Linked DNA regions of Homo sapiens. The protein of the gene in region 1 binds, or shares a complex with, the protein of each later gene. Each region holds a gene or a part of one and is shown on either strand. Other genes may lie near its edges.

Region 1 (7,460 bases):
AGAAATATTAGTCTGCTTTTTTTTTTTTTTTTGAGGTTAGACTATCCTTTATCCTAAAATGAGACAAGAACAATACAAGGCTGATCTCAGCTAAGAACATAAATGCAAAAATTTCTAGAAAGTGGTAATTAAATCCAATATTAATTTTTGAAGTATCTTGACAAAATTGAGTGTATCCCAGGAATGCAAGCACAATTTGACATTAAAATGCCTGATAATGCAATTCTCTACACTAATAGATGAAAGAATAAAAATAATATTTAATTATCTCAAAAGATGTAGAAAAAAGCTTGTGATAATGTGATTCAACATTTATTCTTGATGAAAAACTCTTTAGCCAACTAGGAACACTTAACCAAAAGAATGAGATTTTTGTGTTATGATTTAAAATAAATTTGCTAGATTCATTTATTTTGCTTACATAAGAACTTTTGCAAGTAATGGTGTTTTGCAATGATACTTTTTAATATTTTTGGAACTTAAGAAGTTGTATGATTCTTATGAATTAGTTCAGTATTAAAGATCAAAGAGGACGTGCCCAGCTAGCTCTGTTGGCAGACCATGAGACTTTTAAAATATCAGGGAGGTAATAATCAGACGGTTAATTAGCAAAAGAGTGGTGAACAAGTCCTTCCTCTCATGGCAGCTGACCATTTCAAGTAGATAATCTCTTACGGTAAACATTCATATTTTTCTTCACTTAATAAACCTTGCAACATTTACTATGTGCCAGGACTGTCCTAAGTGCTTCACAATTATTAACTTAACAAATTTCCTAACAACTCTCTCTGGAATAGTTACTATTATTAAACCTCAGTTTCCTACAGAGAAGGAAACTGAAACCTAGAAAGGTTAAGAAAGTTGACCGAGATCCCTCAGTTGTAAGACAGAGCATTCAACTTCTTTCTCTCTCCTCTCCTTCTGGTACTGTACTGGATATGGTGGACCTCATCAATTTCTCCCTGTATCTTTTACCTACTCTTTCCTATTTTCAATATCTCTGTGCCACATTTCAATTTTTTAAACCTATCTTTTGCATCTCTTCAGCTCTCTCATCTACAGTTTAGCACATTCTTTGACTTTTATCTAAATTTGTGACTGTATTATTTATTTCTAAAAGTTCTATCTGGTTACTTTTTGAATTTGTCTGATCTTTTTGATAGTGTCTCACTCTTCTTTCATATTTTCAAATCCTCCTTGTATCTTCTTGAATATTTGGTCATTGTTATTTTTCCACTCTCCATCTGATTATTGTATTGCAAGAAACTCTTGAGTATCTAATAGTGTCCTCTGGTTTGTCTGTGGACTCTTGAGTGTTTCTCTTCTGTTGTCTAATTTTGGGTTGTGAGCTCATCTTCCTCTGTGTTTATTTGTGGACATCCTGAATTGTCCAATTGAAGGTGTGTTCCTCCAGAAAAGTTTTGTAATAACTTCTGCCTGGCACCCCACGGGGATACAGTAGACAGAGGCCACTTTTTAAAAGTTATCACTTAGGGGCCTCCTAAAATATATAAGGAGCATAAATAAGACAAACTGCATGGTGCAAACCAATGGTTGTAAATTCTTCATATTTTTCTCACCACATGCAGAATACAAGCCAAGACAGACAAGTTTTCTTATTGTCTTCTTTTACCAGCACGAGATAGTAGATTGTCCCCTTCAATTGGAAAATACATTATTTCATACAGTTGTTCTTGTATTACTCCTTTGGTAAATTATACTTTTCCATTTTCATGGTTCTCTCTTTTTATAACTACAAGCATTAAATTTCCTAGCCTGAGATCCTTTAATGTTTTTTGTAATGCTTTTCTGTAAGGGCAATATGCTAGCTTTGTCATTGGAGGATCCAGAAATGTCAGTATGTAGGGTCTGTGCTTTATAATCATTCAGTTTTTCCAGAAAATAATTTTCTACTTTCTCCAGTTTTGTGCAGGTAGAGGTAGGATGGGGGAGCCAATGGCATGTTCTTGATTGTCTAAGTTCTTGAGAAAGGTTCAGAAAGGGCCCTGCAACATCTTCATTTCATATACAGTTTTCAATCCTGAGACACACTCACTTGCTGCAGTACCTGGGAACTTGAGACCAGAGAGTCTCTGGTTTAACTTCCCTAGAAAAGAAACCGCCAGTCTCCTTTGGGCAGCAGCAGATGAGGCAGATGTGGAGGACGGAAATTATGCCTGAGGAATGGGCATTTTTCAGGCTGCCAAGAAAAAGGATCCTGAGGATCAATCCCTTAATATACAGACTTTCAAATCTTCCTGCATTTTTAGCCCCGTATCTCTCCCCACCTTCCTTAGTCTATGGTTGTATTAGTTTCCTGATGCTGTTGTAACAAAGTACCACACACTGAGTGGCTTAAACAGCAGAAATTTTCTAACAATTCAGGAGACTAGAAATTTGAAATCAAGGTGTGGCAGGGTTGATTCTTTGTGAAGCTTCAAGAGACAGTCTGTTCCAGGCCTCTCTCCTGGCTGCTGATAGCCTTGAGTGTTCCCTGGCTTGGAGATGGTGCTCTCCCCATGTCTTCACGTTGCCTTTCTTCTATTTTGTCTGTCTCTGAATCCAAATTTCCCCTTTTGTAAGGACGCAATCATCTTGGATTAGATCTCACTCTAATGACTTCATTTTAATGTGATTACCTCTGTAAATACCCTATCTCCAAATAAGGTCCCATTCTGAGATACTGAGGTTAGGACTTCAGCATCTTTGGGGATGAGAGAGAACACAATTCAGCTATAACACTGCTGCCCCAAATCCTGGCACAGTAAATCAGCTCATTTCCTCATATTCATGCCTACGTGCACACCCCATCATACACAGACACACACACACATACATACACGTACAGAGACACAAACACAAATACATTGACACATACACATGCATGCAGGCTGTGTCAAAAAATGTACTCTGGATTTGTTTTAATTAGGTATGGTAAGACACACAGACACAAACATGATTGGCACAAAAGAAGAAGTTTATACTTAACAGATCCCTAGAAACAAGAAGCATGGTGTCTTGGTTCGTTTTCTGTTGTTGTAACAGAATACACAGACTGGGCAATTTATAATGAACAGAAATTTATTTTTCACAGTTCTGGTGGCTGGGAAGTCCAAGATCAAGGGGCTGGCATCCTGCAAGGGTCTTCTTGCTGCACCATCCTATGGTGCAAGGCAAGAAAACATGAGAGCAAGAAAGAGAAAGAGAGAAAACGAGGCCAAATTCATTCTTTTATAAGGAATCCACTCCTGCAATAATGGCATTAATGCATTTATGAGGGCAGAGCCCTACAGCCTAATTGCCTCTCATTAGGTGCCACCTCCCGACACCATTGTGTTAGGGATTAAGTTTCCAATACATGCTTTTGGGAAGACACATTCAAATCATAGAACATGGCATGCCACACAGGACCACATAGGGAAGAACCAATGTTGGTCAGAAGGCAGAACGGAGACAGCAGAGTACAGCACAGAGCCTTTACTAGGGTTTTCCCAGGAAGGAATAGGTGAAGCAGGGTAGGGTGCTGCATAAATTTAGGAGTGGATAGCTTGAATAATCGTGGTGTTCTCTGGGCTATAGTGGTCTGGTATCTGGACCTGGGGTGACTTAGGACAGGAGGAATATTGGCTTAGTGTGTGAGAGTTTGATAATGGAGATGGTTGTGTGGGCTCTGGATTGGTTGGCTTGTATATCAAAGGAGACTTTGCATATTTCAGGGGAATCATTTGCTATCTCTAGAAATTAGCTAACATAGGAGAATCAGTTTCTCCAGGATCAAGGCTCCAAATGCCAGAGCATCAAGAATACAGAAAATAAGAAGATACAGTCAATACACATACACACAAACATACACACACCATACACACAGACACAAATACACACAAACACATGTGCACATACACACTAGTCTATTGGAGTGTGTTTCCTTGGCTCCATTCATTCTATTACTCTTCCAGCTACTTTGCCTCCTACCTCTCCCTCTTTTTTTTTTTCCAACTTTTTTGAGCCATAACATTTATATCCGTTTTCAGGAATTGCAGTGGGATTCAGAGAATAGGCAAAGATTAAACTTGTGCGTTCAACCTTCCACTTTTAACTGGAAAACACTCAAGTGCAACATTTGTTGGTACTCTGCAGCACCTCCACAGAGCTTTTGCTGCTGCCACGTTAGACAGCTTCACCATGTAATGACGACCTTTTAAGATTCTAAATCCCCCCACCTCTGAGCCTGTTCTTCATTGGAAATGCAAGACGACCGGATGACATGAGGGAGGGGCAGCTCTTAAGGCTTGACCTAATTTCCAGTGCTGCTCATGTTGATTTCTCTCCGTCCTTCTACTGCAGGCTGTGCGTCTCTGCTTACCCAGCATGCTTGTACTCCACTACTGGAAGTAGCCTGTCACTTTAAAGGAAAAAAAAAAAAGCTACCGAGTGACCTTCCTTAGGAACGGGTTGCTAAGCTGGTGTTTTTGCTCCAAGACATGGCTGCAGCTTCCCAGGGAGGAGCCCAGGGGCATCTCCAACACTCAGCCTTTCCCTCCGGACCCTTTTAAAAGATTCAACAGCACCGTCTCTCTCCACTTCCATCCTAGAATGCAGAATCTGCAAAGTGCCTTTTGTAAAGTTTCTTAAGGTAAATCAGTCCCTAACCGGACTTTAGGCTGCAACAGTGATTTCCTGTTTTCAGTTACCCGGCTTGAAGTTCAGCCTCTCCAGGATACCGTGAGACTGGATTTAATGAATTGTAAATTTAGGGGCTCTCATCGTTATTTATGTTTTTACTTTCTGAAATGGGAACATAGACCATTACTTGGCAGCTTTGATTTGAGCTGCTATCTGGTATCTGGTTTGCAGGAAATGTAAGTCCAGTTCATCACAAGTCCTGAGTGAAAATGCTCTCTGACCAAAGCTCTGTGAAACATTAGCTGCGTGTTGCATTTATGGGCCTTTTAGTTCAAACTGGCTTAAGGGGAGAAGCACTAATTACTGCAAAATACACTTTTCTTGGTATGAGACAGAGAAAGGGCTACTAACCACAGTGCTAAGAGTTGCTGTGCTTTCCAAAGACTTCAAGAAAATGTACTGGCTACAACTTAAGCTGATTGTTTGTTTCCCTTCATTGCAAAGAGGTGGTATGAAAAGCTAATAAAGTCAAATAAGAAATATGTTTGCTACTGCATTTTCATATAACCTTTTCTGCAAATAAATTCAGCACCAGCATGAAATCTCTCTCTCTCTCTCTCTCTCTCTCTCTCTCTCTCTCTCTATATATATATATATATATATATATATATATATATATATATATATCCTAGAGCTCACTTATAGAGTCATTCATTCAAACATTTATGGAGCATCAACAATGCACCAGGCAATGAATTTAAGTTTAGAGTGTGCAAACATAAATTAGACTAGGTCAGAAGCTCAGAATTTGCTGGGAAAACAGACCTATAAACACATGATAAGAGTACAATGAGCTAAGTGCCATAAGAGATTTATAAAAACACTGAGAGGACAGTGGGATGACATCCAGGGAGGGGCTTCCAGTACTTAGCACATCATGTAAATGCACTGGTCATATATCACGTAACACAGCTCAAATATGGTACTCATGTGTACTCTTCAAGGCCAGTGTACATTATATCGAGCTGATTAAATGATTCTATAAAGCTATTGGTCACTAACCTTATGCTAAGGGAAACTGCAGCTGGAATAACTTGTAGAATAAGATAATGTATTCCAAAACAATGTATGTGGCACCTCCCCAGGTGTCCAAGCTCCAGGAGGGAACAGAAAAATGTTCTCAGGGTGTGAGGAAGAAAATACTCATGGGTAGAAGTGCAGGAGGTTTCAGAAGCACCATAAATGGAAACAGCAAGGCAACTGCCCTGGGCCTGGCTGAAGGGAGGGAGACATGAAACATGAGTTATGGTAGCTGGGGGTTGAAGATTGGAGCTGAAGGTGGGTGGGCTTGAACATCACCTAAGGTCTTTCTCATGACTCCTCTTCTATCCCCCAAGCTCTTTTCCCTCCTCATTCCTTTTTTCCACTTTCCCTCCCCACAATCACTTTTTCTTAGTAACAAAACCTACCAATATTGAGAGCCCAGCCTGTGCTAGGCATTTTACTACACACATTTCATCATTTAGCCCTTATAAATTAATCATCCTTCAAGGTAGGAAGTATGATTGCAATGTTGCAGACAAAAAAAAAAAAAACGTGTCTCAGAGAAGGGAGGGCATTGTTCCAAGATCACACAGCTAATAAATAAAGCTGAAGTTGGAACTCAGGTCCACATATTCCTTGGCAAAGAAATATGTGGACCACTCTTCCTATAAACCCATGTTTTTGCCATCCTGGAGTAGGGCATATATATTGTATGATTTTTTAAGCAACCAATATGGAGTTGAGATGCGTTGTATCTCAACCTCCAGGTATGGCTCTGACCCACTGATGACTCTTAGGAATAGTCCATTTATTCAGATGAAGGTGTCAGTACTTTCCTTGAAAAAATATATCTGGTTTTCTGCACTGAGTAAAATAAATCATTGGCTTAATGTAGCCTAAGCCTTTTCTCACCAGTGCAATGCTTCACAGCTTTCAACTGTAAATATTTCCAGAATAGCCCACTATTCTGGAAAGCACAGAATAATTATTGATGCCATTGCAAAAGCAAGAATAAATGGTGAGATGGAGGGGTAGAGTGGAGTGAGGGAGGACTCAGGAATCACAGAGTCTTGGGATCAAGTTCTGAATGTGACATTTAATAATTATAACTTTGGAAAAATCATGTAAATTGTCAGAGCCTCAGTTTACTCATACGCAAATTGGGGCACATACTACTAAGCCAGACATGTTATTGTGAGGACTAAAGAGAACATGTCTATAGTTAGCACAAAATAAGTGTGCAGTAAATCATAGCTATTTTGATGTTGCCAGTAGGAATATATTAACAAGTACCAGTGCATAAGATGATGGCAAACTGCATATTAAAACCAGGCAGTATTGATTTATCTTTTCTTAGCAACAGTGTTCATATAAAAAATAAATTTCGGTGTCATTTGATTTCCTTAGAAACTCATTTAAAGGAAATGATCAGGAAAGAATGAGGAAAAAAGAAAATCCCATTACATTTTTCATTTTCTACTTCTATTTTTTTCTTCCATATAAAGCATTTATTAACTTATAGAGAACTTTTTTTAGTTACTAAAATGTTTCACAGGTTTTTTTTTTTTTTCAGTTTGCAATGACCAGAGTTGTTCATTAGAGAGCTCTCATGTACTTTTGCATTTCATCTTTATTATCTGCCCCCTCATTCACTCTAGGTTATCTCCTTGCCTCTCTATTTTCTTAGCTGCTTTTACATTTTCCTTCCTCTATTTTTTGTACCCTGTGATGAGGTTTGTAGAGAAGACAATAGAATTTCAGATGCTTTATTTCCCTTTAACATGCTAATTCCC
Region 2 (6,912 bases), on another chromosome or scaffold:
AAACTAATCTTATACAAAAACGGATTACCAAGGTTATAATTAGACACATCTCTCTTTTCAGCATACCCTAATCTTAGCCATTCTTTAAAGTCCAATTCAGTGTCATCTTTTCCATCAATACTTCCTTCATCAGTTCCCCCACCTCAGCAGAAATACCTTTCCCCTTTAGGTACTTACCACTCTAAACTGTCAATAAGAAGTGCTAGCAAAGAACCACACTCCCCTCCCCAAAAAACAGTCTGGTGTACTGAACAGATCATGGGCTTCAGAGTTCAAGCAAATCCGAGCTCCCCAAACCTCTGTGACCCTGGATGTCAGACTTGACATGAATTATTTAAACTCTTTGAGCTTCTATTTCTTCATCTGTAAAATAGTGAAATTAAAACTTCCTCACAGGCTGTTTGTGAGAATTAGAGCCAATATAAATTATTTCATCCTAGCACTGTGCCTGGCACACTTAGTAGGCACTCAACAAATATTAGTCCTCTTTCCTTCTTCTCTTCTACTTATCTACAGGCTCATTGCAAGCACACACCATGTCCTACCCTAATTTGAGACCCTCATAGAATCTAGCATCTTGCTTTCCACGCAGTGAATATCAAATACACATAAGAATGAATTAATGAAAGTATACTGTCATAAGGACATTACTAGCATAGCCATTTGTGATACATGAGTTCCATTTACCTAAGGTTGATTCCATAACACTTTCTGCTTTTATGTAAGAGAGCAGGGTCCTAGATTAAGAATTTGATTTTTAAAATTGAGCCCTACAAAATACATCCTAAATTTGACTAAATTCTTAAGAGCAGACACATATATTGAAATCAGTTGCTGTACACGTAAGATTTTAAAGGCTCTAAAATAAATGTCTTAAAAACATTATTTTCTCCTTTTCTCCATAGCTGAGTGTTTTTATCTGTCACTTAATTATTTTAAAATATAAGAAATAGTCATGGTCTCTCACAGCAAAATAGTTTCTTTTAGCTCCAAGAATATGCCTGATTATTATGATCTACTTTTGCTTGCAACTGTTTATTAAATTACCACTGATAAAGGAATGAATTCTTAAAATCTGTTAAATCTGAAGACAACTCACCAGCCTAGGATCTTTTCGATAGCAACAGTACAAAGCTGCGGACATGGTAATGACATAAACTTGTTATTACAGTACAAATAATCAAACCTACTTCCAATCCACAAAGAAGAAAATTTGGGAAAGAATAATAAATTGGGCAAGCTGAACATTTCAGTACCTTTGAGAAGAAACTGTAGTCAAATTTTGCAAAGAATGGTTTTCATGTTAGAAGTATTGTGTGTTAACATCTTAAAGGTTATGCTATGTCCATATTTCAGCAGATCAAACTTATAATCATGGAAATGAAAATCAAATTAATATGTAAATGAACCTTAAAAGCGTAAGACATAAACTTACTAAATTTTGCAAAAGTTCAAGTTGAGTTCTGTAAATGGAATTTAAATTAAAACATACAATATAAATCAGGGATAGGTAAACAACTGGCCAGCTGCCTGTTTTTGTACAGTCAATGAGCTAAAAATGTTTTTTCACGTTTAAATGGTTAAAAAAGTAATATTTTTTCCACACGTGAAATCCATATGAAATACAAATTTCAGTGTCCATAAAGTTTTATTGGAACACAGCCCTGCCTATTCAATAACTATTGTCAATGGCTGCCGTGGAGACCATATGGCCTACAAAGTCTAAAATATTTACTATCTGGTCCTTTTCAGAAAACGTCTTTTTACCTTGTATTATCAGACGTTAGTGCTCATTAAGCCTCATCCTTGGAACCAGAAACGTGAAAACCTATTTTTTTCACATTTTTCTCTGTACATCCTAAATCATAAAGGCCTACATTTGGGAAATAGGCAAGTGATCAAGGTGACAAAATGCAGCTTTGGGAACTGCCTTTACTTTTCTCTGTCCCTTTTAAAAATTCTCTAAAACCAAGCAGAGGAAAAGATTGATATTTCCCAGCAGAGTTGAATGATGAAAACCACATGGGTTTGGTTGACAGTGTGTTGTCTACCATCATGATGTAGGAGGAGGAAACTGTTCTGGAGGAAACTGTGTTATCACTTGACATCAAGTTAAAGGACGCAGAAGCATCATGGTATTTTGTTACCTTATGATAAGAGTTACATATAGGGGAGGAGGAGAAGGCAGGGAAGGGGTGAGTTTTGTTGAACGCCCGGCTAGTATGGCACATGCCAGTGGGAGTGGATGGTGGTTTGAAAGGACTCATTAACTTTTTTTTTTAATGTCTTCTACGAGAAAATGGCCTTGCTTAGGAACATACTTGTTCTGCTAGGAAAAGGGAAAAGGCAAATTTGTTCCCTGGGGTGGGGGTGGGGACGGGGGAGGTGGGATTGCTTGGGCTATTCCTCGTCATCCTGGACAGAAAAGCCGGGGCGGGCGCCGCAGAGGCAAAACAACTTGGGCCTTCGCTCTCGCGGCGCGCGGGGGACCAGCCTGTGCAGCAAGGGCGGCTTTTATCTTTTTATTTTTGGGGTTTCTCCGGGACAATGATGGGCCTTGCGCGGCACAGAGATCGGCCCCACGTCAGCTGCCGCGCTTGCAACAAGCTGGCCAGGGAGCACCACGCGGAGACCAGGCCCGGCCGGGGGCGGGAGGCCGCCAGCGCCTCAGCTCCCTGTCCGGCCCGGCCCCTCCTCCAAGGCGCTCTCCCGCACTGCGGAGAACTGGCTGAAGGCGACATCGCCATTTTAGGTACGGGCAAATTCTGGACGCTCCAAAATCCACGCCAAGCCCTCGGCAGGCCACACCCCCTGCACCGGGCCTCGGTCACTCACCCGGACCCTCATTGGACTCTGGACCGGTCCGATTGGAATCACTGAACACGGCCCGGCTGAAGTTTCCCAGCCGCTGGCGCACCGGATCCGGCAGCTCCATGCCTGGGCCTCAGTATCCCTCACCCCCTCAGACACGGGCTAGTCTGCGGGCGCTCCGAGGCTCCGTGGTTCCCACGGCAACCGGGCGGCGCGAGGCCGGCGGGACCCGGGAGCGCGCGGGGCTGCCCGGCTGGGCTGGGTCTCGTCCGGAGCCCGCGCAACCTGGAAGGGACCGGCGCGCTCAGAGCGCGTTCCAGGCCCAGGGAGCCGCGCGCCTCGGCCGTGTACAAAACGGCAGATCCCTTAGTTCTGCTTTGAGCTCGACCATCCTAAAAACAAACCTATACTAAGAAATGAGCTGGGGTTGGACTGCGATACAAGGAGCCCTCACATTTGCCAGTGGAACTGTAAATCGGTACAACCTTTCTGGAGAGAAATAGAGAACGAATGCAGAGCTTAAAGAATGTCTAGAGGTGTAGGGGTGTGTGTGAGAGAGAGAGACATCATGTGACTGATTATTTTTTAATAAGAAAACAGCAATGGGCAACTGATTAAATGTACTGGAGCACATACATTCAATGGAGTATGTTTCAGCTGCTTATAAAATGCTTGCAAAGGATATTGAATGGTATAGTTTAACTTTATGTAAAAATACAGCAGAAATAAAACTAAATGAGAATGAACCTAATTTAGCAAAATTTATGTGTATGAGTGGAGGGGAGGAGAGAGCGTGTGCACACTGGCTTGAAAAAAAGAACTGGAAAAAAGTCCAAAATGTTAACAGTCGTTTTCACTGGATAGTGGGATTGTAGGTGATTCAAAAATTTTTAAACGTCTTATTTTCTAGCTTTCTCTCAAGATATATTACTTAAAAAAAACTAAGTGTAATACACATACAGAAAAATTGTACACCTTTTGTAAGTAATATATATTACTTAAGAAATAAGTGTAATATATATACATAGACTGAAATCTGTATGTGTAATCAGCACCCTGTTCAAGAAACTTTACAATATTCCCAGAAACTCCCCCTTCCTATTTCCTTTCAGTCACTAAACCCACTCCTCACTCATAACTGACCTTTCCTGAATTCTAACAGCAAAGGAGAGTTTTGCCTTTTTTTTTTTAAATCAGAACATTTATTGTGTGACTAATCTAAAATTTTTTTTTTTTTTTTTTTTTTTAGACAGAATCTTGCTCTGTCACCCAGGCTGGAGTGCAATGGCACAATCTCGGCTCACTGCAACCTCCGCCTCCTGGGTTCAAGTGATTCTCCTGCCTCAGCCTACCGAGTGGCTGGGATTACAGGTGCCCGCCACCACACTCGGCTAATTATTGTATTTTTAGTAGAGACAGGGTTTCGCCATGTTGGCCAGGCTGGTCTCGAACTCCTGACCTCAAGTGATCCACCCGCCTTGGCCTCCCAAAGTGCTGGGATTACAGGTGTGAGCCACCGTACCTGGCCTGAAATTCTTAAGATGAACTGGATGCTGCAGCAGCTGTCCTCTTGGGTTTAGGTGGCATTCCTTTAAAAAATCCATGCCTTAACCTGCTGTACACAATTTTTAAGTGCCTCATTCGACCAGTCCCACTGGTATATTTTTTAGCCTCGGCACTCCAATTATACTTTATCTTGGCTTGGGAGGGTAGCCGCGTTTGCCACAGGCGGACTTTTGAAGGAGTTAGAGTCACAGGGCAGCACTAGCTGTGCATCTTATCGCACCACTTTCTAGATGATGACACTCCCTTTGTCATCTTGCTTCTGTTTTGCATATTTATATAAAAGCAATCATACTGTAAGTACTTTTTTAAAAAACTGGCTTTGTCTTCAACATTACTTTCATGAAATTCCTTCATGTCATTGAGTGTAGATTCTTTTGCCTTGCTCTTTGTGATCATACCACAATAAGCTTACTCATTCTACTGTTGATGAGTGTCTGTATTTTCTAGTTTGGAGCTGTTGTGTATAGTGCTGCTTTGGGGAAAAGATGCCTCTTGGTGAACATATGCATGCATTTTTGTTGAGTGTATATCGAGAGTGGAATTGCCGTGTCATAGGATACGAAAGACCCAGCTTTAGTAGAGGCTGCCTACAGTTTTCCAAAGTGATCAAACCAATTTCTGCTGCCTCCAGCAATGTGTGAATATTTCCATTACTCCATATACTTCACCAACACTTGTTATTTCTTATCCTTTCCTTTTAGCCCTTCTGATGGGTGTGTGGTAAAAGTATTATTTTTACAATCAAAAGGAAAATTACACATTTATATAAATGCAAGAAGAAGATATGGGTGGAAATAAGTTCATGACTAGAATTTTAAAATAATTACACAAACGTTTATTGCATTCCTACTGCTTATTTGGATATCGTGCTAGGCTAATTAGGGATATGGTCCCTCCTCATCAAGAAGCACAGCTCAGTGAAAGAGAGACATGGAAACAAGTAAGTGCAAACACTGTTATTAGACGTGCTCTATTAAAGGACCACGTCTTTTAATTATTAAAGAAGCAATTAATTCGGGTTGAGGATGTCAGGGAAAAGCTGGTTAACTTCTGCTTCATTTCAAGATGGAGTTCAGACCTGAGAATCTCCAAAAAGGCTTCTAGGACCTTCCTGAAATAGCTTAGGTGCTCTCTTCTGTGTTTCCCAAAGCATCTTCCTCTTGTTTCTTTGGTCACAGTGCTGGTCACTCTATACTAAAATTGTCTGTTTATGTGTCTGTGTCTCTTGCTAGTCCTCAAGCTCTTAGAGGTCAAGAATGGACTTTCATCTTTATATCCCCAACACTAGCACAGTGTGGTACCTGGCCATGAGTAGGAGCTGGATGACTGTTGAGTGAGTAAAAGGAAGAAAAAGCCTAATGACCACTCTCTTGTCTTCCCCTTCTAGTTCAAGGACTTAGCTAGCCCTTTAAAAGGTTCACTTTGTAAAATGGTGAATTGGTGTATTAAAACATAGTGAATCATAACAATTTAAAAAACCTTAGCAACAGAGAATCACTTTTCATTTATCAAATGAACCGAGATTTTTTATAAACGGAACAGTGAAGCAGGAGGCCTCAGGCTCAGCTGTTGAATTATAATTTGGCCAACCGCATTGAGACAAGTAATCGGCAATGTATAGAAATAGCCTTTAAAACGTTCCTGCCTCCTTTAACACGATAAAATCTTAAGGCGTGCTCTATTAAAGGAAAATAATCATAGAAACAAAGTTTTATACACCAAATGCTTCTCCAACATTATTGATAATTGTTTAGAAAAGAGGGGAATGGGCATTTGAAGTGCCCAACCACAGGGCCTCATTAAGCAGATTACGATATTTATGGCAAGGTGTTGGGCTGCAGTAGAAAGAATGTCCTTGGAAGCTGAGAGGGCAGGGTTCAAATACCCTAAAATTCTCGATGTACCACTTAACAGCTGTGTGACTGATTTCAGATACTCGTTTTGTAAAGTAAAAATAATGATATCTTACTGTTGTGGTTGATGTGATATTATATCATTAAGGCTCTCTATACATGATAGCTACCATTTACACATCAATTAAAATGAAGTTTATGAAGAAACAACACCTAGAGTGGAGTCAAATAATGCTGGTATTTAATTTTGTAAATTCAACTGGACCTGCTAGGTAATACCTCTGTTGCTTTCCTAATAAAGACAGTGGAGGCAGTTAAGCATTAAAGCACTCCATTATGTTAACCAAAAACCTATGTGAATTCTTATCAAAAACCTAAGTGAATTATTTTAAAGATATTTTCCCCTGGCATTGAAAAAAGATGCAAGATACCTTCTTCAGATTGTAATTATGTTATCAAAATCCTGGAGGAAAAAAAGTGATAGAATTATGGGTATTTTTCCTTCTAATTTTATTATTCAAATTTCCTATATGAGCGTACATTTTCTAGTTAGAAAAAAATCTTGTTAAAAATAAATTGAGAGGAAGAGGCAATGATGATGCAAAAACATTAGAGAAGATAATTTGAGAGGAAAAAAAATGTGGTTTGGAATGAGTCCTGCCATTATTGATGTATCATAAAT
Region 3 (7,024 bases), on another chromosome or scaffold:
GAAACACACCAGTTAGGAACAAACATACCAGTTTCTAACCTATCCCCATTTAGGGATAAGATCAGGCCTATCCCCAATTAGGGAGTTAGAAAGATGGAAATCCAAAAGATTAAGGACACTTTGATCTTACAGTTTTCACCAGCAAAGCTTCTGACAGCAAGCATGTTGTGACTCCACGCAAATAGTGTCAATAAATTACACTGACATTAATGAATTTTCATAGAAAATAATTTTGGGAGCATACTCTATTAAGAAATTTGAATTCCATTACCTATTTTCTATTCAATGCCTTTAAAGACAGAATTTTCTTTTCCATTTTCATGTGATTGAAATTATTTTATAGACATTAAATATTTTCTGGGTAAATTTTATAATAAAAATTTTCCTAACCATAGCTCCTCCATACTGATTTTCTTCAATGGCAAATATTACTGCTAACATCAACATTTCCCAGTTCACTTTCGATATTTTGAATGTTACCAACAAGTTATCTCCAATTTATTGTCCATAACAAATTTAATTACACGCATTTTAGCCAATTTTAGTTTTTTTTGGGGTTATTTCAATCAGTAATTTTTATTACAAAACAGTTTACTATGAACTATAAAATTTTAAGCAATTTCTCCCACAGAATTAATCTATGAGCAGATTGGTTACTGATTATTACTGCAAATACTGAAGATATTCCAAATAACTTTGCTATCTGAAATAACAGCCTAGTCTCCTGAAGGATTAAAAAGGACCTATTTGGGTCAAAGTGGGGTATCTTAAAATGTCTATCTTTCTGTCCCAAAAGTCAAAAGCACCAACCTGTGTAAATGATTACTTTGGAGAGAAATGATACACAGTTGAATATGTTAAGGTGTGAAGGAACTTCAGAGGTACTCTAATGTCAGAAAGATGAATGAAATTGATGTAGTAATTTCCAAATAAGAGTTACATTATAGGTATCTCCTCAAGTAGACTCTAAATTCCTACAGAACAGAAACTTAGACTTTTCTACGTTATTCAATACTGCTTATAGTCCTCAAAATTAATACAGAATTAATACAGCCAGGTCATCAAATTAAGGCAGTATATTAACTGTTAATCAGCTATGTATTTAACTTACTCTGTCACTACCTTAAGCATATAAGTCAGTATGTTTCTTCACATACCTTTTCTTTCATAGGTTTTAGGTCTACTTCCTCCACCTTTCCCTCTAATTGGTTCTCTAGTTTTTTAACTTTCCTTTGGAGTTCTTCAATTAGACTTTGTTTATTATCTGTCAGGGGTTTGCCCTAAAAAATAAAATGTAACTTTATATTTTTACAAATAAATGTAAAACAAAATAGACAGTAAATATTTCAATTATATAATAGCAACTTTCTGAAGCTATCACTGACCATACTTTCTAAATGACACTTAATACATAAGATAATCTGGTAGCTGCTTCTGCATTTTAATACAACATACTAATATGCTACTCTAGAACTATAAACACAATAGAAGTCACAAAAGAAATTAATTACATTAATCAAAGTGATTTGAAAGTCAGTTTTAACAAATACCATAGATAAAATGATAAAGTAGAAATAAACTACTACCTCTATATTGTAAATCAGACATTATCAGAGTTAAATATAAAATTACCTGTAATCCACTGGTTAGTCTTTTAATTTGCCTTTTCAGTTCATCATTCTCTTGATCAATTTCCTCTTTCTCTCTAAGTATTTTATTATAGGCTTTTTGTTTCTTTTGCAGTTCATTATTTAAGTCATTCAAATTATCAGTTAGTGAGTTTTCTCTGTTTTTACTTGTTTTAAGTGCTTCTTTCAATTTTAAAAGATTTTCATTTAAATCTTCAACTTGTGTCTAATAAGAGAAAAAGAAAGGTATTATTCATGACTCTTCAAGAAGTATCAATGATAAAAGGAACATAAAACAGAAAATATACCATTATAAGAAAAATTCAGTCTGAATTTTTAAGTACACAAGAGAAAAAAAATAACCACAAACTACATATATTTTTCCATATTCATGTCAAGTCTACCTTGAGGAAAAAAGTCGACTTTGAGAAAAAAAAAAAAAACTAGTGTAAAGCAATTCATCTTCAACAAACACCCACAAACAAAATTTTATCAAATATGCACGTTTCATTTTGGCTGAATTAATTAAACAAACAAGTATATAACAATATATATGACAACGTTTTAAACACTATGAAGCATAAGAGTAGTACAGAACAAATCTCTGACTTGAAGTAATTTCTAACCTAGTTTACAAAGATAAGATATAAAAGGGTAACTTACAATACTAGACAATATGTATGCCACTAGAAAGGAGTTCCTAGCTGTCCTATGGTGAGAATGATGGGGACACACTGTATGTTTCCATCTATAACATATTCTGGAAAAGGTGAAACTATGGAGACAGTAAAAAGATCACTGGTTGCCAGGGGTTTGGTGAGGTGCAGAGGAAGGAATGAAGAAGAGAGGCACAGAAGATTTTTAGGGCAGTGAAAATACCCTGTATAATACTATAATGATGGATACATATCATTATACATTTGTCTAAACACACAGAGTGTAAAATACCAAGAGCTAAAATAGAGGTAAACTTGGACTTTGGGTGATTATGATGTATCAATATAGGTTCATCAATTTTAACAAATGTACCACTTTCAGGGTAGGAGATATACAGGAAATCTCTGTACCTTCCTCTCAATTTTGCTGTGAACCTAAAATTGCTCTAAAAAAATAATAAAGTCTTAAAAAAAATCCTAAGTAAAATATTTCTTAAATTTAATTTCATTAGAAACAGTAGTTCATAATGGCCTATCCTTTCCTAATCCCCAAGATGATAATCAGTAAATGAGTATCATAAAGAGACTTATTGTTGAAAAATGCATGTGTGTGTCTATGTCTAGCCACCAACAGTGCATTATAAATTCCCTATTCATCAACAAAATTACTATATATCATAGTGAATTCTCTTCCAATAGGAATTATCAGAAATTTTGTTACATTAACACGTGTTGATGTTCACCTTTAGCTCTCTAGTATGTCGATCAACGATTTGTTGAACATTGAGATGGGCCTCTTTTTGAGAAGTTGCAGAAATAATACGTTCTTCAGCAGCTGCTGTCATTTCTGCCCGGAGTTCTAAAAGTGCCCGACTAAGTGCCTAAAAATTAACCAAAAAAAAAATGTAATTTTTAAAGGAAAACTGACATTTTATATGAATATATGATATAAAAAATAAACAAGCTTTATTACTTCCTACTATTTTTCTAAAATATTATGAGTTTAATGGAACATATTTCACAAATTAACAACTCAACTTTTTCAAATAAATCTTTTGTAATTACACTCAATTCTTTCCACATTGAATGTGAAAGTTCAAAATCTTAATAATGATTTTGAGAACTCAGCATTAAATCAAGCTATTACAAAAAACAGGTATGTTTTGTTTTCAAACATCCAATTTTAGATATTTATATTACTCACTTACTACATCCTTCCATATGAAATTAATTGAATTTAGGTAGACAACAAAAGGACTAGGAAAGGCTTAAAGTTTACCCATAAATTTCATAGCTAGCACAGAAAAACACCAGCATCTTCTAAAACAATTTAAATAGATCAAATCTGAGATAAACTAAAAAAAACCCTAATAAATCAGAATACACTGACCAACTCCTTCTCACAAAAACATCTCTATGACCCCCTTTTTTCATCCCTTTTTGTCATTATCATACTTCCCTCAATCCCTCAAATTGTTCAAAATTGTTCATTTGTTAAAAATAGCCTCAGTAGCATAAAATTCCAGTAGAAAAAAAGAAAATACAATGTAATATATATTATATTTTTGTAATGTACATTAAGATTTTTCCTAACTTCATATAGATAATTCACAAATCAGATTGACGAAAACATAAAAAGATAAATTGGACTATATCTGCCCACAAAAACAGCATTGTCTAAAATACCTTGTTTAACAGCATAAGATAAAGCTCATACTTTTTATTACAACACGGAGATTTATACTACCATCTTTTATAAATTTACAAATCTTCTCTAAAAGCAATCTACCACATATTTTTCCTAAATGTTGATAATTTTCTGTTGTTACTTACTTTCTGTTGTTTCTCCTTCAAGGCTAATTGGCTCTTTAGCCGTTCTACTAGATTTCTCATTGTAGTTGTTGGAGCTCTTGAATTTGCTTCTTTTTGAGCCTGAAGTTCAGATTTTAAACACTGTGACTCCTTTTGTGACTGGTCCAGAAGATACTTTAAATCCTCTACTTCCGCTTTTACTTTTTTCACTTCATCTTCATGGTTTTCTTGAAGCCTGATGTAAATAAACATATGTGTGTGTGTGTTTTTTAATTTTTAATTTTTTTGAGACCCAGTCTCACTCTGTCACCCAGGCTGGAGTGCAGCAGCGCAATCTCGGCTGACTGCAACCTCTGCCTCCCAGATTCAAGTGATTTTTTTGCCTCAACTTCCTGAGTAGCTGGGACTACGGGCGTGCACCATCAGGCCCAGCTAATTTTTGTATTTTTAGTAGAGATGGGGTTTCACCATGTTGGCCAGGCCAGTTTGAACGCATGACCTCAGGTGATAAGCCCGCTTTGGCATCCCAAATTGCTGGGATTACAGGTGTGAGCCACCACACCTGGCCAAACATATGTAATTAATAGAGTGGTTGCTGCAATTCATACCTTGATTAATACAAATTTCATATAGAGCAAATGTTCAGTCCTAAGTATCCTTACAATCTAAATCTTGATGCAGGCATCCAAATCCAAAGAAGAATAATTCTTTATTTCATTTAACTACTCTTAGACTTAACAACACATTTTTCTTCTAGTTTCTAATATTTTTGGCAACAATCTTATCAAGTTATTTTGTGACTCTAGTCAAATATACAGAGAATGAACAAAAAGGCATTTTAAATATTATGGCTCTTGTAAAATGTGATTGCTTCCTCTATATGATAGTTTCCTAACCATACTACTAGTAACATTTTTGACTGGATAATTCTTTGTTGGTGGTGGGGCTGCCTTGTGCATGATAGGATGTTTAGCAGCATCTTTTGATTCTACCCACTGGATACCAGTAGCACCCCCGAGCCATGACAATCAAAAATGTCTCCAGACATCGCCAAATGTCCCCAAGAGGGACAATGGTGAAAAACTGATCCTCTATATTTGAGAAATACTGCCCTATATTGACATATTGAAAAGACTAATATAAATTTTCACAGAAATCACATGTATTATTAATTTGTTTATGGTTCAAATTCACTAGCATTATATCTATAACTATATATATGGAAGTGGATACTATCAAAAGATTTAGTTAATTCAATTAATCTTATTGCTTATTCAGCATTAAGTCTGTTAAACTGAATTAATATATTGTTGTGCATATGGACACTGCATCCATACTGAGATTCTGACCAATAAGAGGGAGATAGTGTTAAGACATGAACAAATGTTACTCTTTGAGGCTTCTTGCTTTTGGCAAAACTTAAGTCTAACTTTAAAGAGTCATCATCAAATTGTGAAAATATCAGGATTTACTTAAGAAATCACACAGATCCATAATCTCCTAATACATATCAAAATATGCACACAGAGAACACAAGTATAATTTTGGACTAAAATGACGTAAGGTACACAACAATAACTTCAAGTATTTCCTGTGGCAAAAAAATGTATTATATAAGGTATTTCAAAAGATTATGATTTTCTACACCCACAAATTAGATGCAAAAGCACAAGTAATTTTATACTCCAAAACATGACAGAAATTTACTAGACCAAAAATAACATCTCTTGTACAAAATTTAATAGAGTGAGGAAAAGAGACTGAAAATACACATATGCTGTTGCCAATTTTCTTTCTTTTAGAGAGTAATTTCTTAACAGTGGCAGCTCCTTAGCAAAGCAAAAATAGTGTTAATTCTGTCAGAGGCATTTGAATAAGTGAGTAAAGAATCAAAGACTCTAGCAGGGGCTTGAGAGCTGAAATGGAATTATAAGTCAAGCAGTTCAATTTTCTCATGTTTTTTCAGATAATAAAATTTAGGCCCATAGAGATAATATTATAATGATTAGAAACTACCTAACTATAAACCTATTTTGAGTTTAAAATCTACGTTCTGATAAAGTGGTTGAACAATGTTTAGAATCTCTATTATATGACAGACACTCTTATAAGTGTGTAATCAAAAGTTTTCTATCTGTATGTTATTTTACAGTTTTCAAATTACTTTCATACACGGTATAATTTGACCTTCATATAACCACCCTGAAAGGGCCAGGGTAAGTATTATTATTTCCATTTTAAAGATGATGAGGCTGGGTGCAATGGCTCAGGCCTGTAATCCCAGCACTTTGGGAGGCCGAAGTGGGCGGATCACTTGAGCTCACGAGTTCAAGACCAGCCTGGGCAACATGGAGAAACCTTGTCTCTACAAAAATACAAAAAAACTACCCAGGTGTGGTGGCACCTGCCTGTAGTGCCAGCTACTCTGCAGGCTGAGGTGGGAAGATGGTTTGAGCCTGGAAGGTCAAGGTTGCAGTGAGCTGAGATTATGTCACTGCACTCCAGCCTAGGAAATAGAGCCAGACCTTGTCTCAAAAATAAAAATAAATAAATAAGATGAAACTGAGGCTCAAAGAAGGTAAAAATGAGATTCTGGAAAAGAATTTGTATTGGCTTTTGAGTCAGACTGACTAGTTTCAAATTATGGCTTTCCCATCTACCCCCAGACATGCTATTAAGCATTCCTGAGGCCATATCCTCTCTTTAAAATGGGGAAAATGATAACATATGTAACCAGCAGTCCTGAGGATAAAAATGAGACAATATACTTAAAAGTCTTAGAACAGTGCCTGGCATAGCAAACACTTATGTTTATCTTCATTATATCACTTATCATTTGCCTATTTTTACAATACATTTCGAAGACTTACTGTAATTTGATATTTTCAAATTCTTTTACTTTTAATTCAGTGATTTCTCTTTGTCTCT
Region 4 (7,920 bases), on another chromosome or scaffold:
TCAGAACTTCATAGCTATGTTTGTGGATATCTGCTAATCAGCATAACACAAATGTAAGTGATCGTCAGAAAGAATCAGACAGGAGCAATCAGGGTGTTGCAAGTCCTGATTACGCAGAGACGTTAATCACGTTTCATGCATCTCCAATCATCATGTTCTAATCTGCCCTCCGGAGGAGGAACAGGTAAGGATTATCCCACCTGACGATACAGACAAACAGCCGACATTCTGCACTCAGTGAAAAAGATTCCGTTACAAGCTAGGGTGAGTTCATAACGCGCTGGTATGAGCAATCCTATTATTTAGCGTCCTTCCAGTTGTTTTGCCATATTAGCTCGCACATTTTTTTAAATTTTTTTTTCATTCGGCTGCCGAAAAGGAATAAATTACTTCTTCCCAGAATGCTCCGATCAGTTACGTGCCGGACGTTCTAACTGTACGCACTTTCTATTTACATATCTCCGCCCACTCCCTTCCGCCAGGCACCTACCGTAGTAACCAAAATAGAAGCGATACCAAGTATCTTACGGTCTGCAGGACTAGAAAACAGCGTTGTTTTTTTTTTATTCAGTAGTTCAGCCATCTCAATTGTCCCCTAAAACTGTATATAAGTCTTAATGTTACTACAAAACATATTTTATTACAAAGCACTAAATACAATGCGGATAATCCCAGACTCAAGACGTAATTATTCCAACACATATCCTCCAGCAGAAGCAGTTTCCGAGGGGAAAACCGAAGCCTATGCCTTCCTTCTTCCAGGAATACGAAGCGGCCCTTGCCCCTGTAGGCTTCGTCCTTAGGTTCCCGTCATGAAGGTAATCAGAAGGGTTTCTTTTTCAGCCCAAAGACGGTGACGAATAAAGCCATTTCAGTGACAGCTGGAAGGGCACTACCAAGGCAAGTGGTAGATTCAGAAACCCTTTCAGTATAAATACCCAAATCTCCAAACCAGAGACCCCACCTCTGAAAGTGTAGGGCAGGTGGCATGGGGGGTAGGGGATGAAACTTTAAAAGCCTACAGGATGTTGAGTGGATCTGGTATCTCACACATGGAGGAAAGGGCTGGGTAGGGGAAAAACCTTCAGGTTTAGGGCCAACCTTCCTCCCTCATCCCCAAATATTGGATGCTACCACACCTGCAGAAGACAAAAATGTACCAATACGTAGTGCACTCCCAACGCTCGAATATGAAGAAGGACAGGGCCACGGATGCACTACAGTGAGCCCCAATGGCTTGGGAAGGCACGAGATTAAGGAAAGTCTTTGGATCGACAGACAGTGATGGGTCAGAAAAGGCCAGTGGTGGGGCTGGCATCTGCATTCAGGTTCATCCCTTGCTCCCTCACCATGTTTCAAGGGCTAGAGTCAGCAGCTCTGACTTCTGAATTTTAGGACAGTCATGTGAGGAGAGACCAGAAGTGACTGCACAGATCGGACCTCAGGCTACCCTACCCCTTATCTGTGGGCCAGCCTGGATCCTTCAGATGAGAGGTAAGAGTAGGCTCTCCTTCTGCTATGCCACAAAGGAGTGCTGACAGCGACTTAATATGCGCTGGAATCAGCCTCCAGTGTCCTGGTCCTCCTGGTCCACAATTCTCTGACCCATGTGCCTCATCTCCTTTGCCTCTTCTGAGTTCCCAGTGCTCGCTTCCGTTGCCTCTTCTGAGTTCCCATTGTGCTTTATATCTTTTGTTTGTTTTTTGACAGAGTCTTGCTCTGTTGCCCTGGCTGGAGTGCAGTGGCACGATCTCAGCTCACTGCAACCTCTGCCTCCCGGGTTCAAGCAATTCTCCTTCCTCAGTCTCCTGAGTAGCTGGGATTACAGGAGTGCGCCGCCACGCCCGACTAATTTTTGTATTTTTAGTAGAGACGGGGGTTTCACCATGTTGGTCAGGCCGGTCTCGAACTCCTGACCTCAGGTGGTCCACCTGCCTCGGCCTCCCAAAGTGCTGGGATTACATGCGTGAGCCATCGCGCCCTGCCTGTGCTTTCTATCTTCACACACTTCTATAGCACAGTGCTTATCACACTGAATTACAGATTTGTATCTACCTCCTCCTCATTGTAAAAAGAAACGGTGGGGTTTTTATTATTCCTATTATTTTTGTAGACTTGGGTTCTCACTATGTTGCCTCCTGCCTGCGCCTCCCACAGTGCTGGGATTACAGACGTGAGCCAACATGCCTGGCCAAAAACTGTATTTTACTCTCATTTTGGGATTTTAAGTGCCTAGTAAACAGCAGGATTTAGCACATCGTTGAAGATCTTTGAACTGGAAGGATTGGCTACAGCAGACACTATTGTGTCAGGTGGCTGAAGGGAGTCCTGATAGAAGTGGGTCGTGTGGGAAAGGTGGGCAGGCAGAAAGGATACAGATGAGGCTCTGGGTGCTGTTGAACATGGAGACTCCTGAGAGGAAACCGGCCAGCTCCACTGCAAAGAGGCCCAGGGTGACAGAGAGCGCGGCCACCAGCCTGCAGAGAGGAAGTGGACTGGCCCAGGCCTTTGGACTTATTCTAAGACCCCTCCACTCCCACCACCTCTTCGTTCTGGCCACCCCGTCCCAAGAGCTCACTGAATGTCCTGCTTGTCATACTCCTCGGGGGTGAACGTGAGAGGCAGGCAGGCCTGTATGTTGCTGTCCTGGGAGCAGGGCACAGGAAGAGAAGTGAAAAAGGGGCAGGCTGCAGGGCAGGCCTGGGGGCGGCGGGAAACAAGAAAACCCAAGAGGGTAAGACACTGGGAGGGGGCAGGGTAGGACTAGGACCACTCAGAGATGGGAATGGGGACGGATTGAGTGCAGCCGTGGGTCTTACCCGGGACCAGAATAAGGTGATGACGACCACCAGATGCGCCAGGAGCGTCAGGAAGCGAGAGGGCACAAGCCCTGAGACCCGGCCCATGGCCCTCGGGGACAAGGGCGGCGGTCTCTGAGGCTGGAAGTTCAGAGACAGCGACTCCTGAAGTCTCCCCGCAAGCCGACAAATCTAGACGAACGCCTCCTTCCCGCCCGCTCAGGCACCGCCCAGTTGCCTTGGTAACCGTGTACGCGGGCTCGGCGCCGCGTTCTCGGAAATCCTCGCGAGCAGTACATTCTCCGGCTGCTGCGGGTCTCTCAGGGCCAGCGAAGGTCAGGGGTACCCGAAGGCGCTTCTAACCTAACGGCTGGGTACCCGCGCGCAGCCAGGCCCTTTGTTCCTCAGAGGGTGCGAGGTGGCACAGCCCCGCAGCGCCCGATCTGCCCACGCAGGGCGGATGAACGGAAACCCACCCTGGCCTAGCTTGGGGACACCAATGCTTCTGCTGTTGCCCACGCCGGGAGCGGCCCCCAGCCCCAGCTACGCTGCCCAGTTGTGGATCACTTGAGACCGCTGCCACCACCACGCCGGGCTGAGTTCCCCGCCATGCCGAAGACTCAGACCCGCTCCCCTTCCCCTCCTCTGCATGCCTTTAGCTTCCCACCAAGCTGGGCCTGAGAAACAAGGGACCCGAACCTGGAGAGGCCGGTGTTCCTGGACTGCTCTGCAGTCACAGATTGTCACGGAGCCCCTGGTTGTCTGAGGACCCCAGGCCTGAACCTTCCTTGAGGAAGACTGATTTCTTTCAGACTACTTTGCTCAGTTTGGTGAGGGATTTGCAGAGTGCAAAAAATGGCCAGCGTCCTTAAACTAGCATGGGGATAAGAGCAGAGCAAGGTGGCTGGAAAGAGTGGGAGTGGACGAAGGGAATGGGACAGTCCCTGCGTCTCTGGGAGGCTTGGAGCCGGCTGGAAGGGAAACTCAACTCAGATTTCTTTGTCCCTTGGAGGTGCTGGGCCTCCGACATTGCCCAGCTACAGTCCAAGAAGCTCTTATCATCGGCGACCTCATGACCTTTGGGCCTCAGCGCAGGTCCCTGCAGATCTGAAAGTTCTTTAATTGCTGAGTCAAGTCCCATCCTCAAGGAACCTCCCGGCCCATCTCCCAGGAGAACAATCTCTTCCTACTCCCCACTCCCCATCTCAGTGCTTTTAGCCAGCCTAAACTACAAGCCCAAGAGGCATTTCTCATTCCTTCAACAAATATTTGTATATGTTTATTGATTACCTAGTAAGGGTATTCTAGTCAGGGAGATCAACAACAGACATGCAAACAAATAAATCCGTAAGATAATAGGCGCTACAAACAGGGAAAAGCGGGCTGTGCACTGTGGCTCACACCTGTAATCCCAGCGCTTTAGGAGGCCTAGGAGGGCGGATCACCTGAGGTCAGGAGCTCGAGACCAGACTGACCAACATGCTGAAACCCTGTCTCCACTAAAAATACAAAATTAGCCGGGCGTGGTGGCGCGTGCCTGTAATCCCAGCTATTCGGGAGGCTGAGGCATGGGAATCGCTTGAACCCAGGAGGTGGAGGTTGCAGTGAGCCGAGATCGCGCCATTGCACTCCAGCCTCTGCAACAAGAGCGCAACTCCGTCTCCAAAAAAAAAAGAAACGCTAGAATTATAATTCTATAAAAATAGGGCATTTATAATTCTATTAAAATAGAGCATTTATTTTGTTTTATTTTATTTATTTACTTTTTCTGAGACGGAGTCTCGCTCTGTCTCCCAGGCTGGAGTGCAGTGGCGCAATTTCGGCTCACTGCAAGCTCGGCCTCCCGGGTTCACGCCATTCTCCCGTCTCAGCCTCCTGAGTAGCTGGGACTACAGGCGCTCGCCACCATGCCCGGCTAATTTTTTGTGTTTTTAGGAGAGACGGAGTTTCACTGTGTTAGCCAGGATGGTCTCGATCTCCTGCCCTCGTGATCCGCCAGCCTCGGCCTTGCAAAGTGCTGGGATTACAGGCATGAGCCACCGCGCCCAGCCGGACATTTAACCTTAAACTTTATTTTAGAAACTTTGGCCAAAAATTGGCCGGGAGCGGTGGCTCAGGCATGTAATCCCAGCACTTTGGGAGACCGAGGCAGGGAGATCACCTGAGGTCAGGAGTTTCAGACCGGCCTGGCCAACATGGTGAAACCTCATCTCTACTGAAAAAAAAAAAAAAAAAAAAGTTAAAAAGTTAGCCAGGTGTGGTGGCGCCCGCCTCTAATCCCAGCTATTCCAGAGGCTGAGGGAGGAGAAGTGCTTGAACCCGGGAGGCAGAGGTTGCAGTGATCCAAGATCGTGCCACTGCACTCCCGCCTGGGAAACAGACCAAGACTTCGTCTCAAAAAAAAAGAAAAGAAATAAAAAGAAAATGCACTCTGGGACCAGAAGCAAAAGCCCATGCCTGTAATCCCAGCACTTTGGGAGGCCAAGGCGAAGTATTCCTTGAACCCAAGACTTTGAAGCCAGTCTGAGCAACATAGTGAGACACCTCTCTCTGTTAAAACAATAATAAAGGCCGGGAATGGTGGCTTACGCTTGTAATCCCAGAACTTTGGGAGGCCGAAGCGGGCGGATCCCCTGAGGTCAGGAGTTTGAGACCAGCCTGACAAACATGATGAAACCCCGTCTCTATTTAAAAATACAAAAAAAAAAAAAAAAAAAAAAATTAGCCGGGCATGGTGGCACACACCTGTATTCCCAGCTACTCGGGAGGCTGGGGCAGGAGAATCGCTTGAACCCGGGAGGCGGATGTTACAATGAGCCGAGATTGCGCCACTGCACTCCAGCCTGGACAACAGAGCAAGACTCCAACTCAAAAAAAAAAAAAAAAAAAATATATATATATATATATATATATACACACACACACACATATATACATACATAGATATCTTTTTAATAAAGTTTTAGGCCGGGCGCGGTGGCTCACGCCTGTAATCCCAGCACTTTGGGAAGCCGAGGCGGGTGGATCATCTGAGGTCAGGAGTTCAAGGCCAGCCTGGCCAACATGGAGAAACCCCGTCTCTACTAAAAATACAAAAATTAGCCAGGCATCGTGGCACGCTCCTGTAGTCCCAGCTACTCGGGAGGCTGAGGCAGGAGAATCTCTTGAACCCACGAGGTGGAGATTGCAGTGAGCTGAGATCACACCACTGCACTCCACTCTGGGTGACAGAATGAGATTCCGTCTTAAAAAAAAAGTTTTAAACAATAAACATTAATGTTTTCGGAGTCTTATATTGTATTATTAAGACAAGAAATTGGAAAAAAAATGGAATGATTTATAGGATTGAGGGTCCCTAAAATGTTGAACTCCTATATATTGAAACTATGTAATGACATTTTCATATAAACCATCTCTTTAAAAGACAGCACAGCCTTTTCTTCATATTGGAGACAATGTAATCACCAAAACTTGCTTTTATCCCCATGAAATAAAAGCTTGTGATTTTCTAAACTTTACTGAGGAGTTACTATTATTATTATTATTATTTTTTTAAAGGAGGTTCAACAAAGTCTCTCTTTGTTTTTTTTAGGCAGGGTCTTGCTCTGTCACTCAGGATGGAGTGCAGGGGTATGATCATGACTACAGTGACCCTCGACCTCCCTGGCTCAGGTGATCCTGCTGTCTCAGCCTCCGGAATAGCTGGGACTACAGACGCACGCCACCATGCCCAGCTAATTTTTGTATTTTTAATAGAGACCGCGTTTCACCGTGTTGGCCAGGATGGTCTCCATCTCTTGACCTCGTGATCTGCCCGCCTCAGTCTCCCGGCACCCAAAGTGTTGGGATTACAGGCGTGAGCCACCGTACCCGGCACCCCCCTCCCTTTTTTTTTTTTTTTTTTTTTTTTGAGACAGAGTTTTCACCTTTGTCGCCCAGGCTGGAGTGCAATGGCATAATCTCGGCTCACTGCAACTGCCGCCTTGTGGGTTGGGGTGATGCTCCTGCCTCAGCCTCCCTAGTAGCTGAGATTACAGGTACCCGCGACCATGCCCAGCTAATTTTTGTATTTTTAGTAGAGACGGGGTTTCACCATGTTGGCCCGGCTGTTCTCGAACTTCTGACTCCTGACTTCAGGTGATCCACCCGCCTCGGCCTCCCAAAGCGCTGGGATTACAGGCGTGAGCCGCCACGCCCGGCCAGTTCTTTTCTTAACTGTTGGACCCCTTCAAAGTTCTGAAGATAGTTTCAAACCTCCCTGCTCTCAGGATGGACAAGGAAACCCATTAAGTTTTCTCCTTTGAAATGACCCCCATTGCATTTGATTCCTAAAATGAGTGATAGTAATGACACCTAATTTACAATGAGAGATGAGCTTCCTGTATTCTCCAATGCAGAAATTACAGCATAGCAAGCATTCAAACGTTCTTAGGAGACAAGATAAAAAGACTGAAGGTTCAGCCTGGGCGACATGGCAAAACCCCGTCTCTACAAAACAATACAAAAAATTAGCCAAACATAGTGGTGCACACCTGTAGTTCCAGCTGCTTGGGAGGCTGAGGTGGGAGGTTCACCTGCACCCAGGAAGTGGAGGCTGCAGTGAGCCATGATCACACCACTGCACTGCAGCCTGAGTGCCAGGAGTGAGACCTGTCTCAAAAAAAAAAAAAAAAAAAAAAAAAGACTGACGAACTCTCCATGCTTTTCTTCCCTCTGTCTGCAACTTACATGCATTTTCGACCTAGACCTTCAGAGGTGAGCTCCCCCAGTGAGAGATTCATCAAATATAACTGTTCACAGATGAAAGAAGTTGTCATAGGCCAAAAGTGAGGAAAATCCAGGACCTGCTTTTGCAAGGTTTTCCAAGGTCTCTGAATAGAAGGAAGTGAAAGAGTCAGCTACATGAACATCTAGGGAAAGAGCATTCCAGACAGAGGACATAGCAAGTGCAAAGATGGTGAGAACAAGCCAAGTGTGTTTGTTGAACAGTAAGGAAGGCAGCATTTCAGAAACCTAGTGATGGAAGGGGAAGAAAAGTTCAGTGTGAGGTTCGTTAGGTAAACAGGGGCCAGATGAAGCCAGGCCTTGCAGCTACAGGGAGGGACATGGTCAGGTTGGTGTT

What was found.
Region 2: CC2D2A (region 1) and TMEM17 share a complex: the UniProt entries of both Homo sapiens proteins name them as parts of the tectonic-like complex.
Region 3: CC2D2A (region 1) and CEP290 share a complex: the UniProt entries of both Homo sapiens proteins name them as parts of the tectonic-like complex.
Region 4: CC2D2A (region 1) and TMEM107 share a complex: the UniProt entries of both Homo sapiens proteins name them as parts of the tectonic-like complex.

What each region holds. Positions count from the first base shown.
Region 1 is NC_000004.12:15,465,425-15,472,884, forward strand, and holds the start of CC2D2A (coiled-coil and C2 domain-containing protein 2A), read left to right. Parts: upstream 1-4,457; 5' UTR 4,458-4,633; intron 4,634-7,460. UniProt on the Homo sapiens protein: Component of the tectonic-like complex, a complex localized at the transition zone of primary cilia and acting as a barrier that prevents diffusion of transmembrane proteins between the cilia and plasma membranes.
Region 2 is NC_000002.12:62,503,195-62,510,106, forward strand, and holds the start of TMEM17 (transmembrane protein 17), read right to left. Parts: upstream 3,002-6,912; 5' UTR 2,936-3,001; coding exon 2,836-2,935; intron 1-2,835. UniProt on the Homo sapiens protein: Transmembrane component of the tectonic-like complex, a complex localized at the transition zone of primary cilia and acting as a barrier that prevents diffusion of transmembrane proteins between the cilia and plasma membranes.
Region 3 is NC_000012.12:88,076,065-88,083,088, forward strand, and holds part of CEP290 (centrosomal protein of 290 kDa), read right to left. Parts: coding exon 6,967-7,024; intron 6,313-6,966; exon of another isoform or gene 6,249-6,312; intron 4,332-6,248; coding exon 4,118-4,331; intron 3,166-4,117; coding exon 3,028-3,165; intron 1,855-3,027; coding exon 1,633-1,854; intron 1,281-1,632; coding exon 1,158-1,280; intron 1-1,157. UniProt on the Homo sapiens protein: Involved in early and late steps in cilia formation. Its association with CCP110 is required for inhibition of primary cilia formation by CCP110.
Region 4 is NC_000017.11:8,173,381-8,181,300, forward strand, and holds the start of TMEM107 (transmembrane protein 107), read right to left. Parts: upstream 3,001-7,920; 5' UTR 2,907-3,000; coding exon 2,820-2,906; intron 2,647-2,819; coding exon 2,579-2,646; intron 2,496-2,578; coding exon of another isoform or gene 2,478-2,495; coding exon 2,377-2,477; intron 1,495-2,376; exon of another isoform or gene 1,396-1,494; intron 1,237-1,395; coding exon 1,140-1,236; intron 893-1,139; coding exon 823-892; 3' UTR 1-822. UniProt on the Homo sapiens protein: Plays a role in cilia formation and embryonic patterning. Requires for normal Sonic hedgehog (Shh) signaling in the neural tube and acts in combination with GLI2 and GLI3 to pattern ventral and intermediate neuronal cell types.